Regions from separate parts of the Homo sapiens genome. Here region 1 is linked to region 2. Evidence: fine-mapped expression QTL. Tissue or cell type: lung. Region 2 holds a variant in brackets; the other region holds the start of a gene. All regions are shown on one strand. Distances are between the middles of the regions.

Region 1 (8,000 bases), 91 kb before region 2:
ATGCCCTCAGGCGGGTACGAGGGGCAAAGTGGGAGCAGGGAGCGTGCTTCCTCTGTGGCCTTGGTTCAGACAACAGCCTTCAGCAAAGCTTTGCTCTAGAGGCTCATAGGAAGGGACAGAGGGCACAGGCCCAGCTCAGCCTTTCCCCTGCCTTTCTTGGGGCCTGGGCATGGACAGCACCGCCTGGCGACACACAACGGTGGGCTCTGAGGCTGTTTGTTACGCAGCATTAATGTGGCCGTCGGTGACCGCTACACGGTGACTGATAACTGCACTGTGGGTAGAGCTCAGCCCGCAGGGCTCTGGTTTGTGACCTCTGGGCCAGGCAACTCTCAAGGCTTCTTCCAGTGCAGAATATGATTCCTAGAGAAAAAAAAAAAATTACACATTCGTTTCCTAACATAGGGCCCTGCAACCGGAGAACACCACCACATTGGGAGCTGTGCTTTCCACTGTCTAGAAACCATGGCTTGCCAGCTTGCAGGGTCACATGGAGCCGCATCTCCTTCTGGGGTGCAGGGGTGGGAACACTCGTGACCTGTAGCCGAGGGTGCAGGGAGAGGACAGGGTGAGCCAAGCAGAACAGCCGTCTGTGAGTCATCGTCCCAGGACAACCAGCAAATGGCACAACACCTGCTCTCTCAGCCCCCACCCGCACCTGCCAGCCTCACGTGGGGGGTGGGGGGGTTGGCCGCTGGACAGTCACAGCAGGATCTGCCCAAACTGACCACCCTTCCAGGAGGAGGCAACAGATGTTAGCATCCACGGGTCCTGGGCCCCCCTTCCATACCCAGACTTCAGGACATGAAAAATTGGGGTAAATGAAGGGTGCACGATTATCTTCGGGCCCACACTGGCTTCCTGCGGGTGCCAGAGACAGCTGCCACCGCATGCCAGGGACAATGGCCCCGAGGAGGCGGGAGCTGCCAGGCCGGGGTGCTGGGGGACAGCTGGACGAGGTGCCGACAGGGGCTCATTCCTCCCTGAAGCCGGCCCGCAGCTGCTGGGAGCGTGGCCAGCCACGGGCTTGTGTGTGCCTGGGTCCTGGGGGCTGTGCTGGCGCAGGCCGGGACGGCGGGGACAGGGTCCCACCTAGGGCAGGCTGGTCGGTCTCCGGGGAGGCAGCCCAGTCTTCAGCCTGCGTGCTCTTGGGGTGTCCGTCCCTTCCTCCCCATTCTCCTCCTCTTCTCAGCGTCTTCTCCCCCAGCACCGGGCAGCCCTGGGGTGGCCGAGCCTCATCTCCACTCCCCTCCCTCAGGCCTCTCCTGGGTCAGCCTGGCTTTTTCTCTTAGAGTTTTTGCTTGACAGGGCACTCTCAGGACGCCCTCCTCCTCCTCCCGCCTCGGGTTGGTGTGAGGCGCTCAGGGCAGGGCCCACGTGCCTGTGGTCACAGGACACTGAGCTGCAGGGTGAAAGGACCACACCTGGCCGATCTCCCGGCCGCTGCAGCTCACTCTGGGTTTGCAGAGAAGCCTGTTTTTAAGTGAAGTGCCTTCTTAGAGAATAAGACACACCTGTATCTAAATGTTATTTTTAAACTGCTAGATGCGCCTTAATATAGACAAAGAAGTAAGGTGAGCGTAAATGACATGATGTATTCCGACAGGTGACAGCGCCTTCCGGGCGATTCTGAAACACCAGTGCAGGGCTGTCTGTTGTCTTTTGTTTTCATTTTACTTTTTTTTTTTTTTTTTGAGACAGAGTCTCGCTCTGTCGCCCAGGCTGGAGGGCAGTGGCACGATCTCGGCTCACTGCAAGCTCCAGCCCCCGCGTTCACGTCATTCTCCTGCCTCAGCCTCCCGAGTAGCTGGGACTACAGGCGCCCGCCACCATGCCCGGCTAATTTTGTTGTTGTTGTTGTATTTTTAGTAGAGACGGGGTTTCACCGTGTTAGCCAGGATGGTCTCGATCTCCTGACCTCGTGATCCACCCGCCTCGGCCTCCCAAAGTGCTGGGATTACAGGCGTGAGCCCCGGTGCCCGGCCTCATTTTACTTTTCTAAAATTCGAGGCGAAATTCACATAGCATGAAATAAGCCATTTGCCAGTGAACGACTCGGTGTTTAGCACCTCACAGTGCTGGGCAGCCATCGCCTAGTTCCAGAAGATTCTCATCAGCCCAAAAGAAAACGTCCTACCCCCGGACCACTGGCTCCCCACTCCCCGTCCCCAGACCTGGACCACAGAGCTCCCTCCTTTCCCCGTGGCTTTGCCCACCCCGGACATTTCATGTAAATGGGCTCACGCAACTCATGACCTCCGCGTCTGTCCTGTCCCACTGAGCTTGATGTTCTGAGGTTCATCTGTGTTGTAGCACGTGTCAGAACTGGATTCCTTTTTATTTTATGTTTTATTTTAGTGAGACAGAGTCTCGCTCTGTGGCCCAGGCTGGAGTGCAGTGGCGCGATCTAGGCTCACTGCAACCTCCACCTCCCGGGTTCAAGCGATTCTCCTGTCACAGTCTCCCGAGTAGCTGGGATTACAGGTGCCCGCCACCACACCTGGCTAATTTTTTTGTATTTTTAGTAGAGGCGGGGTTTCACCATGTTGGCCAGGCTGGTCTTGAACTCCTGACCTCAGGTGATCCACCTGCCTCGGCCTCCCAAAGTGCTGGGATGACAGGCGCCCGGCTCCTGGATTCTTTTTGATGGCTGAATCATAACCCAGTGCACTTTTGATTAAATTCAGGCTGAAATGGGCACGACCAGAGCTGCTGGTCCACCTCTCCCCGGCCCAAGCCCTGCCCCCGGTGACCTGCTCTGGAGCCATTCTGGGCAGTGGATGGGACCCCTGCGGTCAGCGTCTCAAGAGAGCAGACCCTGAGGGAAACTTGAGCTCAGAGAGAACAGGAGCTCCCAGCAGACCCTTCCGCTGACTGCTCCCACCCTGGGCAAATGCAGAGCCGGAGCCCGGAGCGCTGGAAGCTGGAACAAGAGGCCCTTTTCTGCTCTGCACAATGCCCCATTGTGCCCTTCGCGGGGAGAGCAGCTCGGCCCAGCGAGGGGAAGCTGTGCACAAAGCCTCCTTGTGAGGGCAGCCCCACCTGAGGACAGCGCAGGGCCACACCTGACGCAGGGCAGTCCCTCTCGCCGTCCGTCCCCTAGCAGGCCTGGCACCCAGACAGGGCCCGCTCTGCAGGCGTGGTCCCAGGGTGTGGGGCTCCCTGTTCCCCACAGATGAGGGGAACAGTGTGGGCTGTGCCGGCCCTTCCTAAGCTGGCCCCCAGGTCACGAGGAGAGGTACGGGTCGTGGGCTCTGTGGAGGGACTTGGGTGCCGGGCGCCAGCCAGGGCCGATGCCTCCTGCGATCCCCAAGGCTCCGAGCCCTCAGGCACACACCACGCTCCCGGAGGCTGGGCCAGCATGCGGAGGATGTTTGTGTGTTCGTACCCGTTGCAACATCTTTAACAGGGTCCCATTTCACAGCTGGGCTCCTAAGGGGGGTTTCATAGAAAAGAAATGGAAACTAAAAATGAATTAAACCATAAGATGTACACGTATGCTACGGCCCCAGCAACACAGGGAAGGTGGAGGCTGAGAGGAAGCTCGGGCCACTGCTGGTCAGGCCTGGATTTGGGGGCCCGATGTCCACAGTCAGTCCCTGCCCACACAAGGCTCACACTGCAGGTGGTGAAGATATAATTAAACAGGTAATTAAACAAGCAATAAAGACGGGTCATTTGACCAACCCAGTGGCGATAATTGATACGCCAAAACACTAGGAAAGCTAGAGAGGCAAAAGAGAAGAATACATGAAAACAAAAACAAAAAACCAGGACAAATATTTCCAATATACACAAAAGAACAGGATTTTTCATACGTAAAGAGTGCTGACAAATGAATAAGGAGAAATCTGCACTTCCACCTAAGTGCCCCACAGTTTATTCACTAACCCCTAGGTCTCCAATGCCTACTCTAGCCTCACGCCCTTTCTTTCCTCTAAGGAATGCCTGTGACCCCAGCCCTTCCTAGCACCCGCTTCACATCAGCCTCCAGAACCCCGCTCCAGTCATCAGAGTGTAGAGTGCTGGCGTCCTCCTTCATGTTCTGTTTGGGGCATTGGGCAGTTAGCCCTTCCCTCCTGAGTCCTGAGTCCCCCTCTTCCCCCACAGCTTGAAGTCCAGTCCCAAGGGCAGGCAGGAGCTGGGTTGTGCAAAGGCGGAAGGGTGCTCAGGCTGGGAGAAAGGGGAGGGTCCCCCGAGCATTCCAGGCACAGCCCTGCCTACTCTGTCCCTTGCTGGCTGCGACGATCGCCCTAGCACCCTCCTCCGCAGAGAGTGAGTGTCAGCTGTGAGGCAGGGGCACGCAGTGGTAGCACCGCCAGGGCCTGTGCAGCCCACCTTCCCCAGGACCACAGCTGGGAAGGCGCCTGGCTGGGGGAGGGCACCTGGCCTCTGCAACTCGGACTGACGGAAGGCACGCGTGCCTGCCCCAGTGAGCTCGGGTCGGGCGACGCGCACCACCTCCCAGGTACCCGGCCCCGCGCCCTACCCGCAGCAGCGCCCAGCGAGAACTGCGAAGGAGGCAGGCTCCGGGCACCCGCTCCCGCGCGTGGGCGGGGCCGGCTGGAGGGGGCGGTGCCTCCGGGACTGTGAGCGGGGCCTCCCGGGGTGTGGGTGGGGCCTTCGGCCGTGGGCAGGGCCGGCCAGGGAGAGGCGGGGCCTCCGAGAATGGGCGGGGCCTCCGAGAATGGGCGGGGCCTCCGGGAGTGCGCCCTCCCCGCACATGCGCCCTGACAGCCCAACAATGGCGGCGCCCGCGGAGTCGCTGAGGAGGCGGAAGACTGGGTACTCGGATCCGGAGCCTGAGTCGCCGCCCGCGCCGGGGCGTGGCCCCGCAGGCTCTCCGGCCCATCTCCACACGGGCACCTTCTGGCTGACCCGGATCGTGCTCCTGAAGGCCCTAGCCTTCGTGTACTGTGAGTGCCGGGCGGGCCCGGGACATCCGCCAGTGTCACCTCCGCGCACCACGACCCCCGCCCTCCCTCGAGACTCCTCCGCGCGGTCTCGCGGCCGCGGCGCCCCCACGCAGCCCTCCTTCCTGCTGGGGCCCGGGCAAGGCGGGGCGGGCAGGGCAGGACAAGGCTTGCTGGCGACAGCGCACCCGGCCCTACCCCTGTCGCCGCCTCGAGCCTCCGGCCTGGGCTCCTGGGCTCCCGGTTCCACCCGCAGCCCCGAAGTTGCACGGCCGCGCCTGCCAGGACCGGCTCGGGGCTATGCGAGGCGGGGCCGGCCCGGGCCCTGGCCCAGGAGTTCCCAGGAGAGCTGGGCAGGTGGAGGGTCACCCGTCCGTGCGCAGGTCGGGGGTCTGCGTCCTGGCTGCGGGGCGGGGGGCGGCCTGGAGAGGCGAGGCGCTCCTGCTGTCCCCGACACAGCGCTGTGCTGACGGTGAAGGTTCCCACTGTAACTGGACGCCCGCACGCCACATCCCTGCCGCGTGCGGCCCCTGCCAAAATCCGAGGAGCCGGCCCGGGAGCCTCCTTCGCGTCTCCCAGGGGCTGAGGGAAGGTGACTGGCTGGTGGCCAGACTGGAGTTTCTCCTTTAGTGTTCTCGACTAGCTCAGTCTGCGTTCGGGAAGATTCCCAGCGGAGGTCTGGGGGCAGCTCCGGAACCTCATCTGCAAGTGAAGCCTGCGCCTCACTGTGGGATGTGGTTGGCCGGGTCCACTGGCGGAGACCCTTCACCCCACAGCTGTGCGGGGCCCGCGTGCGCAGCCTACAGAGCAGAGCTCTGAGAAAAGTCAGTTCACGCTCAAAACCTCTGGATCCCCTGGCCAGGGGCAGCTGGCGATTCCAACTCCCTCTCTCCCCAGTCCCTACAACCCAGAACTGGTTTGGAAGAGAACGGTTCTGTGATCACGGTGACATGTGATCACACGGATACATGTTTCATAAGCCCAACGTGTCAGGAGCTACGAACCTCAAGTGAGGCTCTCAAATGAGTATGGAAGTGAGGGGAGCCTGCCAGGCCGAGATGCAGCCAGCGGGGCGCGTGGGCAGTCACCGTCCCAGAGGGCTCCGGAGCTGCTGGCCCCGGGCGTTGCCCACGCGTTGGTTGTAGGCCGTGGGCATTGGACGTCTCCCTTTCCTTCCATCGTCTGCTTCCCTCACGTGTGGAAGGAAAGGGTCAGGTTGCAGAAGTTCTTCTTTGCACAGCCTTTGTGCCACACACGTCGCGGGAAGTTTGGTAGCCTGGTTGTGCTGGAGTGATGCTCAGTTCGACGTTTTGTGTGACATTTGTGTGATACTTTCCACCTCCTGGTGCAAAGTGATGAGACGCGCTCATCACTACAAGGTTTCCTGTGGGATTGCAGTATCGGCTTCAACTGGGTCTGTGTCTCTCTCTCTCTTTCTTTAAAGCAACTATTTTATTTTATTTATTTATTTTTTTCGAGACGGAGTCTCACTCTGTTGCCCAGGCTGGAGCGCAACGGCACCATGTCGGCCCACTGCAACCTCCGTCTCCTGGGTTCAAGCGATTCTCCTGCCTCAGCCTTCCGAGTAGCTGGGATTATAGGCACGCACCACCATGCCTGACTAATTTTTAAAAATATTTTTAGTAGAGACAGGGTTTCACCATGTTGGCCAGGCTGGTCTCGAACTTCTGACCTCAGGGCCTCCCAAAGTGCTGGGATTACAAGCGTGAGCCACTATGCCCGGCCTGCAATTATTTTAAAAAGTAGTTCTTCCCAGGTTGCTTTTCCCTCCACAGTATTAAACAGTCATTTTAAATGTTGGTGCTGTCACTTAGCAAACGATGAAGTAGAGATAAAGTGAAGCTGTGAGGCTCTAATAGGCCTTCCACAGGGGAGCCCGAGATACAGCAGGAAGTCCCAGCGGCCTTGCCTCCGGAGCACAGCTTCATAAAACCAGCTCAGACTCTTTCAAACGAGCTGAGGCTCCTTTGATCTCCGCAGGGATTCTCTGTTCAATTCAGAAGGAACTGCTTTTAAGCCACTGGGTCAAGCGGATATTTTAAGCCTGGTGCCCAGCATTGAACATTTCTCCTTGACATATGCACGTTCTTCTGTCTTGTGAGTACATTTGGGGTAGAATCAGTGTTTTTCTGCTGTATCAAGGAACCAGTTTCCCATCTTTCAGGGACATGGTTTTCTGGCTGAGCTGGCCCAGGGCAAGCAGGCAGTCATCCTGCATTTATCTCCTTCTAGAAAGTTCTGGATTTTACTGGGACTGTGCGCTACTCCCTGTTCCTCAGAATCCCAGGGTTTTTCCAAGTTGCCATAGGGGCTCTCCAAATATTTCACTTGATACTGAATTTTACAATGTTTATAGCTATTGAAACACTTGTAATTAAACACATAACCAAATGTATTCTGTGGAAACTCCCCTTGTTAAAAGACATTGAACTGAGGGAGGCTTACCCTTAGGCAGATTGTCTCAGCAGACATGTAGTAAAGATGTACAGATCAGGAGAACACAGAAACGCCTGCCCTGTCGGGGAAGCTTCGAAGCCAGACCTGGAGAGGCCGGCTGCCAGCGACAGGCCTCTGCATTCAACCTGACTTTGCATCCGTCCTGGGGCTGGCTCCTTCCCACCGCGGGCCTGGGCGTTTCCATGTGCTGCCACCGAGGTGTGTAGGTGCTAGGGGTGTGCTCACTGCACACAGACGTGCATACCGCGGGCGTCCTGGGGTGTCGGGCATGCCCTGCTGTGCTGTGGGAGCCGGAGTGTGTTAGCGGAAAGCGGCATTTTCACAGGGCTCAGAGTTGAAGACACACCTGTCTTCCTGACGTGTGGACTCGGGTCCCTAGTGTGATTACTGCGTTGAGCAGATGCTGAAGTAGCACCCTGCCCGGTGCTGACCTCCTGGTGACAACGCCACTACCCCCAGTGGACAGCGAGGAAGCAGGGTCAGCCACTGGCCCGGCTGTGCAGCGATTGTCCGTAGGCCCTGGAGTTCAGCCCTGCCCTTCATTCACGCCACTGTGCAGCCTGCGTATCCTGGACACCCGGTTCACATCTGGGCAGCGGCGTTCTCGGG
Region 2 (8,000 bases):
AGGATGGAAAAACATACCAAAAACGTGAATGAGTGACAAGAAGGCTGGACTGGCCACCTTCACACCAGACAAAGCAGAATTCAGAGCAAAGAATATGATCAGGAGTAAAGAGGCCATTTCACAGTGTTTATCAGGAGGTCAGAAGACTCTCAAACACGTATGCGCCTGATAATAGAGCTTCAAAAGACATGAAGCAAAAATGGATAGAACTGTAAGCAGACATAGACAAATCCATAAAGTTGGAGATTTCAATAATAGATAAAGCAGGTAGATAGAAAATAAGGAAGGATGTAAAAGAGCTGAAAAACACTACTAACCAACATGATCTAATTAACATTTATAGGCAGTTTGTGACAATTTGATTATTTGTCAATCAAACTACAATCAAAGTGATCAATAGTGTCATATTGTCATGCAGTAAAATGTGACCATTTGGTTATCTGGTGTTGTTTTCCTCATATTTTTTGTGCTTGGAGTTCGCTGAGTTGCTTGAATCTATAGGTTTATCATTGTCATTACATTCGGAAAATATTTGGCCAATATTTCTTCAAATATTGTTTCTGTACCTCTCCAGGATGTGAGGAGGCTTACACGGGTACGAGTGCTGAGCCCTGTCTGGGGTGGAGGGTGTGTGAGTCAGTACTAAGTATCTGTTACCCAAAGACTCAGAAAGACTTTTACTTTGGTTTCTCTAAAATGGGGTTTTCCCAGTAACATCAGAGTTCAACACTGTTTGGCTTCTGGATTCAGGCTGTTTCAGAGATCTGCTATTGCCCAACACACCCCAAGCCTCAGTGGCTTAGAGCAGCAGCATCTTTCTCCTGGTCCTGTGACAGGTTCTGCTGGGCAGCTCCTCTTTCTCCTGGTCCTGTGATGGGCTTCGCTGGGCGGCTTCTCTTTCTCCTGGTCCTGTGATAGGCTCTGCCGGGCAGCTCTTCTGCTGAGCAGCTCCTATTTCTCCTGGTCCTGTGATAGGCTCTGCTGAGCAGCTCCTCTTTCTCCTGGTCCTGTGATGGGCTCTGCTGAGCAGCTCCTCTTTCTCCTGGTCCTGTGATGGGCTCTGCTGAGCAGCTCCTCTTTCTCCTGGTCCTGCAATGGGCTCCGCTGGGTGGCTCCTCTTTCTCCTGGTCCTGCAATGGGCTCCGCTGGGTGGCTCCTCTTTCTCCTGGTCCTGCGATGGGCTCCGCTGGGTGGCTTCTCTTTCTCCTGGTCCTGTGATAGGCTCTGCCGGGCAGCTCTTCTGCTGAGCAGCTCCTCTTTCTCCTGGTCCTGTGATGGGCTCTGCTGAGCAGCTCCTCTTTCTCCTGGTCCTGCGATGGGCTCCGCTGGGTGGCTCCTCTTTCTCCTGGTCCTGCGATGGGCTCCGCTGGGCGGCTTCTCTTTCTCCTGGTCCTGTGATAGGCTCTGCCGCCGGCTCCTCCTTCTCCTGGTCCTGCGATGGGCCCCGCTGGGCAGCTCCTCTTTCTCCTGGTCCTGCGATGGGCTCTGCTGCCGGCTCCTCTTTCTCCTGGTCCTGCGATGGGCCCTGCTTGCTGGCTTCTCTTTCTCCTGGTCCTGTGATGGCCTCTGCTGGGCAGCTCTTCTCCTGAGCAGTAGCAACTTTCTCCTGGTCCTGTTATGGGCTCCCCTGGGTGGCTCTTCTGCTGCACGTGGTGTCAGGTGGGGTCATTCACGAGCTGATAGCTAGGCCGGGAGGTCCAGGAAGGCTTCACTTGTACTGGAACCTAGTGCATCTCCCGGTGGCCTTGCCACATGGCCACCATTGGCTTCCTCACAGCTTGGTGGCCTCAGAGTAGAGGGACCTTTAATGGGGTTGGAGCTGCCTCTTCAAGGACTGAGCTTGAAAGTTCAGAACATCACTCACGCTGCATTCTCTTGGCCAAAGCTGAGTCCCAAGGTCGGCTGGGATTCCAGGGGAGGCGAGCCATGCTCAGGAGGGGCAGTGGCCACTACAGCTGAGCCTGATGCTCTTCTCTTTTTAACACAGCATTGGGTCATGTCAGCCCCATGTCTGTTACATTTGTCACCGTCTTTATCACTCAGTGTCATTTTTCTCCATCTGCAGTTGCCTTGGTGGGAAGTGGGGGTTCCACGTCCACAAAGGCATCGCACTGTGTCCCTGCTGTGGCCCTTTCCCAGGTGAGGTTCTGAGAGCCCGTGGCAATTACCACTTCGGGACACAAACATCCAAGGGCCGCTTCCCACGGGGACGCTTGTGATTGGCTTGTTCCTGGAACACATGGGACCTCCTTCTTCATCCCAAGACCCTCACCTGATAAGCATAAGCAGCCCCCGCTCCCCTCCCCGTCAGAGCTCAGCCGACACACGTCAGCAGCCCCAGCATGCAAGAGGGAAGGAGAGGTTAAAGTCCCCCACCCCAAAAGCCAGACCAAGAGCTGGGACTTCGGGTGTGGGCCTAGCCCTGGAGATGCTTGTTCCCAACACCTGGCCAAGCCTGCTGCCTCCTGCATGGGTCTCGCCGCAACCCCAAACACACAACAAGCAGCCTAAAAGGGAAGTGGCAGACCAGGCATTCCGGTTCTTCTCTGGCTTTTCCCTGTGGGCACTAGGGGGTGGGTCCCACATGGGGCACTCAAGCCCTAACAGACGACACTCATTCTCCCCCAAGATCTGCTGCCTTCTAAGTCCCTAAACAGGTGTCATCCCCTTCACTCTTTCCTCATGTTTTTCTTATTTAAAATTGTCTTTTTAGGAGAAGTTTGCAGGCTGTTTCCTGAGGTCTGGGCCAGCAGCACCGCCATGCCCTGACCCACCATTCCCCTGGCCGCGGGCTGAGTGTCCCAGCTGCACGGGAACTCCTGGCCTTGCCTGCAGCATGCGACACTGCCACACCCACCTCACGGCTCACAGCCAAGTTTCAGGTCATGATGTTTTCTCCTAGCCTCAGTGTAAACAAAAATAACTCTTTGCCCTCTAAGCAAATGAGCAGAGGCCTCAGGACCCTCCCCAGCCCACGGCTCTTGGGGTGCACTGGGGCCCTGTGCCCGGTCACCCCCTCGGGTGTGCACATGGCCGCCTCTCCTGCGCTTCCCACACCCCCACCCCGGAGCAAGCGCTGCCCAGCACAGCCCCTATGTGCGCTTTCTGCCACCTGGGGGCCCCGACTTCCACGTAGCCTCTCTGGACCCTGGGAGTCCCAGGACCTGGGTGCGGATTCTGAAGCGTCTGGGGGCCGCCTCCCTCCCTGCAGGGCGTGTTCATTGTTGTCCCTAGTGGGGTTTCTGCGGCTGTGCCAGGCCCAATGGCTCCCGCGGGCTGTGCTAGCAAGGCCTTCAGCCCTGAGCAGCATGCGGGCAGGCCCCTCCACAAAGGCAAGCAGAGCGTGCAGCATCGTCCATCTAGGGCACTCTTCCCACCACCACCCTGGGCTCACCGACTCACACAGCCCTGGCAGTGCCACTCTGGATCCCGTTGTTGGGGGCTTCCAGAAAACAGCGTGTGGGGGCCTGGGCCCCATTTGCCAGTGGGGTGTTCTCACTCCAGACAAGTCTGCACAACCACTCTGACTTGATTGATGGATCGACTGTCTGATACAAGGTCTTGTTCTGTTGCCTAGGCTGAGTGCCGTGGCACAGTCGTGGCTCACTGCAGC[C/G]TCTACCTCCTGGGTTCAGGCGATCCTCCTGACTCAGCCTCCTGGGTAGCTGGGGCTACAGGCACGCACCACCATGCCCAGCTAATTTTTTATTTTTATAGAAATGGGGTCTTGATAAGTTGTCCAGGCTGGCTTCAAACTCCTGGGCTCAAGTGATCTGCCTGCCTTGGCCTCCCAAAGTGCTGGGATCACAGGCATGAGCCACCGTGCCTGGCCTTGATAGTTTTGAATTATGGTGCAGGGCAAGTTCCCACCCTTCCTCCTGGCTGGGCTGCTGAGTGGGACCCTAGGTGTGGGGACTTCTCTGTGCCTTGGCCTGGGAGGCTTCCAGGTCCCCACAGCCAGGTCTTGCGCTTAGAGCCTTGAGCTGGGCTCGGGACCCGGGCCCCATTCCTGCTGGTCCCCAACCGGCACGTCCCCACCCACGTGTCCATCCCCAGGGAAAGGGCATCCTGAGCCTGAGGGGCCGCCTGTGGACCCCGGCTCTTGGGGGTTGCAGCTTGGCCGCCTGTGGGCAGCAGGCGGCGCGTTCTCCGACTGCCTGTTCTCCGACTGCCTGTGTTCTCAAGTTGGGCACGGGGTTTACAGGTGTCGTCTCTCCTTCAGCTGGGGTGTGTATTCTTTGCTTTTAGATGGTAAAGATTTTAAGACAAAAATGAACACTTTGCTTTTGCTTCAAAAGCTCCCTGAATGTCTCTTGGCCCCTCTTAGCGTGGCAGGTGGGCTCCACGTGTGCAGGGCCAGGCGGGCCGGGGGGATCCTGTGTGCAGTAGGAGCCGGGGTCAGGGGGCCAGGGACCCACAAGCCTCTCCCTAGCCCCGCCCCCCGAGATCGGCCAGGCACCTCACGGCCCCTCCTGTCCCTGCAGACCCAGCCGATGCCCAATCCTGTGGCGTACTACCTGCACCACTCACCCTGGTGGTTCCATCGCTTCGAGACGCTCAGCAACCACTTCATCGAGCTCCTGGTGCCCTTCTTCCTCTTCCTCGGCCGGCGGGCGTGCATCATCCACGGGGTGCTGCAGATCCTGTTCCAGGTGAGCCCGCGCCGCCCGCCCTGCCCCGTGTCCACAGAGACGCTGGCCCGTCGCCCTATTTCTGGCTGCCCCGCTCTCTGGGAGGACCCTGGGGCATTACAGGCCCCCTTTCTTGGGGACAGCCTGTCCTCCCCAGCCTTCGTTTGTGTCACGGGCCCCACTGCAGCCCTGTCCCGGGCTGCAGGCTGAGGGTCTCCTTCCCAGGCTTCCTCCAAGGACTGGCTCCTCCCAAGAGCGTTTCCTGCAGCTGCGAGAGGCCCGGCCATGTCCTGGGCTCGGCAGTGGGACGGGGTCAGCACGCCAAGGCCCTGTGTGGACACCCCCACATTCCTGGGATCCACTCCTAAGATTCTTCCATTCTAGAGGTTTCCTTTCAAGTGTTCATGTCAGTCCACGGGGAACCAGGGTCTGAGAGAGGCCAGGGTCATTTGCCTCCATGTGGGTGAGGGGCTGCCTCCCCCAGCCCCCGGAACCCCGGGTACCCCCTAACGCCCCGTCCTGCCCACAGTCACCGCCATCCCTGCCCCACAAGCCCCCTGCATTGAGGGCGCCTCGAAGGACAGAGCACCCCCACGCTGCCTCCAGGGGGGCTGGGCCAGTCCCGAGCCTTTGCTTTTCCCTGTAAACGCTACATTCCGACTGTCAATTCCCAAGGAAAATGTGGTGGGGATTTTAAAGGTGGTTCTCTCTCTCGATTGTTTCAATGGAGGTGTAACATACAGCCAGGAAAATGCACAGGTCCAGGTGGCGTTCCACGTGCTCTGGAAAACAGATGTACCTGGGTGTCCCACGCCCCTTCCCCTGCCCTGCCCGCCCCTGCCCCCGCCCTTCCCCTGCCCTGCCCACCCCTGCCAGAGCACCGCCGCCTAGAGGGGCAAAGCTCCGTCAGCAGGCACGGGTGCCACGCCACGTTGGTGCACGTGGGGGCGCCCATGGTTGTTGGCCGGGTCCTGTTTCACGGTGCGTGCCTGCGGTCGGTTCACCCGTCCCGTCTGTGCACGTGTGGTAGTTTCTGGTTTTCACCACAGCCTGCCGTGCAGAGGTGCAATCTCGTCATCCTGTGGATGTATTTTCAAGGGCGCTACTGTATCGTGAGCAGGCCTGTGATTCACCTTACTGGAAGCTGCACGTGTCCAGGGTGGCTGTGCTGTTCTTGACCCCTCCCCCCAGCAAGGACCCTCACTCTGGCCGCCGGGGCCCTGAGCAGCTCCTGACTCCCTCGGGCTTTTCCGCGTTAGCTGCTTGGAGGCTGGCACCGGTGCCCATCAGGTGATTTCCCTGTGGGCATCGATGTCGCCGTGAATCTAAGTGGGAAGAACGGACTTGCTCACAGATCGTCCCCCAGCCAGGACCGCACGTTTCTCTCTGCAGCTGCTCAGGGCTCCTGGAATAGCTTCAGTCGGTTCCATGTAGCCGGACCCCACGCGTGTTTGGGGGCTCCTGGAATAGCTTCAGTGGATTCCATGTGGCTGGACCCCACGCGCGTCTGGGGGCTCCTGGAATAGCTTCAGTCGGTTCCGTGTAGCCAGACCCCATGTGTGTTTGGGGGCTCCTGGAATAGCTTCAGTGGATTCTGTGTAGCCAGACCCCACGCGCGTTTGTAGGCTGCAGCTCTGAGGTGACTTCTTTTTGTTGATGTTGTAAATGGTGCCCTTTTAAGTCACACTTCCTCCTCTTGGTGGCTAAGTGTGGGACTCTGGTGACCTTGACCTTTCTCAGACAACCTCTGCACTGGTACTTCCCCGTCTGTCTGCGGGTCCCTCAGAGACGCGTCCTGTGGGTGATCTAGGGATTCTGCCGGTTCTACGTCCATCCCTTTCTCCCCTGCTGGGCGGGCTCGAGTGCTGTCCTGGGTCTGGGGTCCCACAGCAGGGAGGGCCCGCCACCCCGCGCACTGCCTCTCACGATGCCGGCTGTGGGTTGTTTTCGTGGCTGCTTTTATTCACTTCTCCTTTGTGGGTTTTTAGCCATGAATGGATGTTGAGTTGTGGCGTTTCTCCATCAGTCACGAGATGACTTGTTGTTTCGTCTGTAACGTGGCGAGTTACATTAATGCTGTGGATGCTGAAGCAAGTTCACATTCCCAGAACATCTGAGCCTCTTCCTCTGCGGGAGTCTGGAAAGCAGAGGTGACCGTCCCTCACACCTGGCAGTGCTCCTGCATGAGGCCACCTGCGCCGCCAGGGTCTCTGTGACTGATCACCCTTGCGGGCCGTAGGACACGCAGAGTTTCCATTCCTTCTTGACTTGAGGCAGTTTTTGTGGTGAACATTTCCCTGGGAATTTGTTCATCTGTTTTCAAATCTTTTGGCAAAAAAAGTCATAGTATTATCTTAGTTTTATAGCCTCTCAAGTAGCCGGGACTACAGGTGCCACCACGCCGAGCTATTTTTCATTTTTTGTAGAGCTGGGGGTCTCGCTATGTTGCCCAGTCTGGTTTTGAACTCCAGGGCTCGAGCACTCCTCCTGCCTGACCTCCTAAAGTGCCGTGACTGCAGGTGTGCGCCCGGCCTCAAGGCCTGTGTCCTCACCGACACGCATCTCCTGAGACAGCGGGGAGCAAGGTCATGCTTAGGGTCAGCGTGGCCGTCTTTCTCTTTTAAGTAACAGGCCCGTATATCTCAACTGACATATTTGGACGTATTTCCACATCTTTGTGTTTTTCTCTTTGTTCTTTGTATCTTTCTCTCTCGTTTTTTTCTGTTATTTTCCCTCCTCTAATGGATAAGGAAGATCCTCTGTTTCCTCAGTGGTTATCAATCAATCAGCCATGTTAACTTACTGAAGGTCTCAGTTTGGGCAGCATCTTTGCCACCATGACCCCCCGAGGTCCTCAGCCCGCCCAGCCCGCCTCTGTCCAAGGTCCTCAGCCCACCCAGCCTGCCTCTGTCCGCCCCAAGCCACTTGCGTCCTTTGCTCCAGTGTTTCAGCTCTGTTTCGTTTTATTAATTGACTTATTTTAGAACACTTTTAGATTTTCGGAAAAACTGTGCAGAGACTACAAAGGTTCCCTTATCCCCCCCTCCCAGTTTCCCTGCGCTCAGCGTCTTGCATCGGCCAGGACCTTGTATAGTTGATAGGCAGGACTGATAAACTGTTGCCAACTAAAGTCCCGGCTGACAGGAGAGCCATTCGCAGTGTTGCTCATTCTGTGAGCTCCGACAAACGGACGACGACACGTGTCCCCATCACAGCTTCATGCAGAGTCGCTTGTGGCCCTGGAAGTTCTCTGTGCCCCGCCGACCCTCCGTCTCCACGGTACTGCCTCTTCCGGACATCCTAGAGTGGGAAGCATTGTGCAGCCTTTGCGGACTGGCTTCCTGCCCTCCGCGGCCGCGCGTGGGCTCCTGC

The links. PIP is the estimated chance that this variant, and not a neighbour inherited with it, causes the effect.
Region 1: it holds the start of LMF1, and the variant in region 2 is fine-mapped to the expression of LMF1 in lung (TOPMed, PIP above 0.99).

The regions. Positions count from the first base shown.
Region 1 is chr16:967,704-975,703 of GRCh38, reverse strand. It overlaps LMF1 (lipase maturation factor 1), which reads left to right and starts at 4,720. Exons shown (of 11, transcript NM_022773.4): 1 at 4,720-4,916. The coding sequence starts at 4,724. It overlaps LOC124903620 (a long non-coding RNA gene), which reads right to left and starts at 1,635. Exons shown (of 2, transcript XR_007064935.1): 1 at 1,093-1,635; 2 at 1-363. RefSeq lists enhancers at 2,551-3,541, 5,524-6,515 and a silencer at 4,309-5,478.
Region 2 is chr16:876,219-884,218 of GRCh38, reverse strand. It overlaps LMF1 (lipase maturation factor 1), which reads left to right. Exons shown (of 11, transcript NM_022773.4): 6 at 4,482-4,649. Among named protein-coding and RNA genes, the nearest start is that of LMF1-AS1, 41 kb to the left of the region's middle. The variant C/G (reference allele first, on the strand shown) is at 3,614.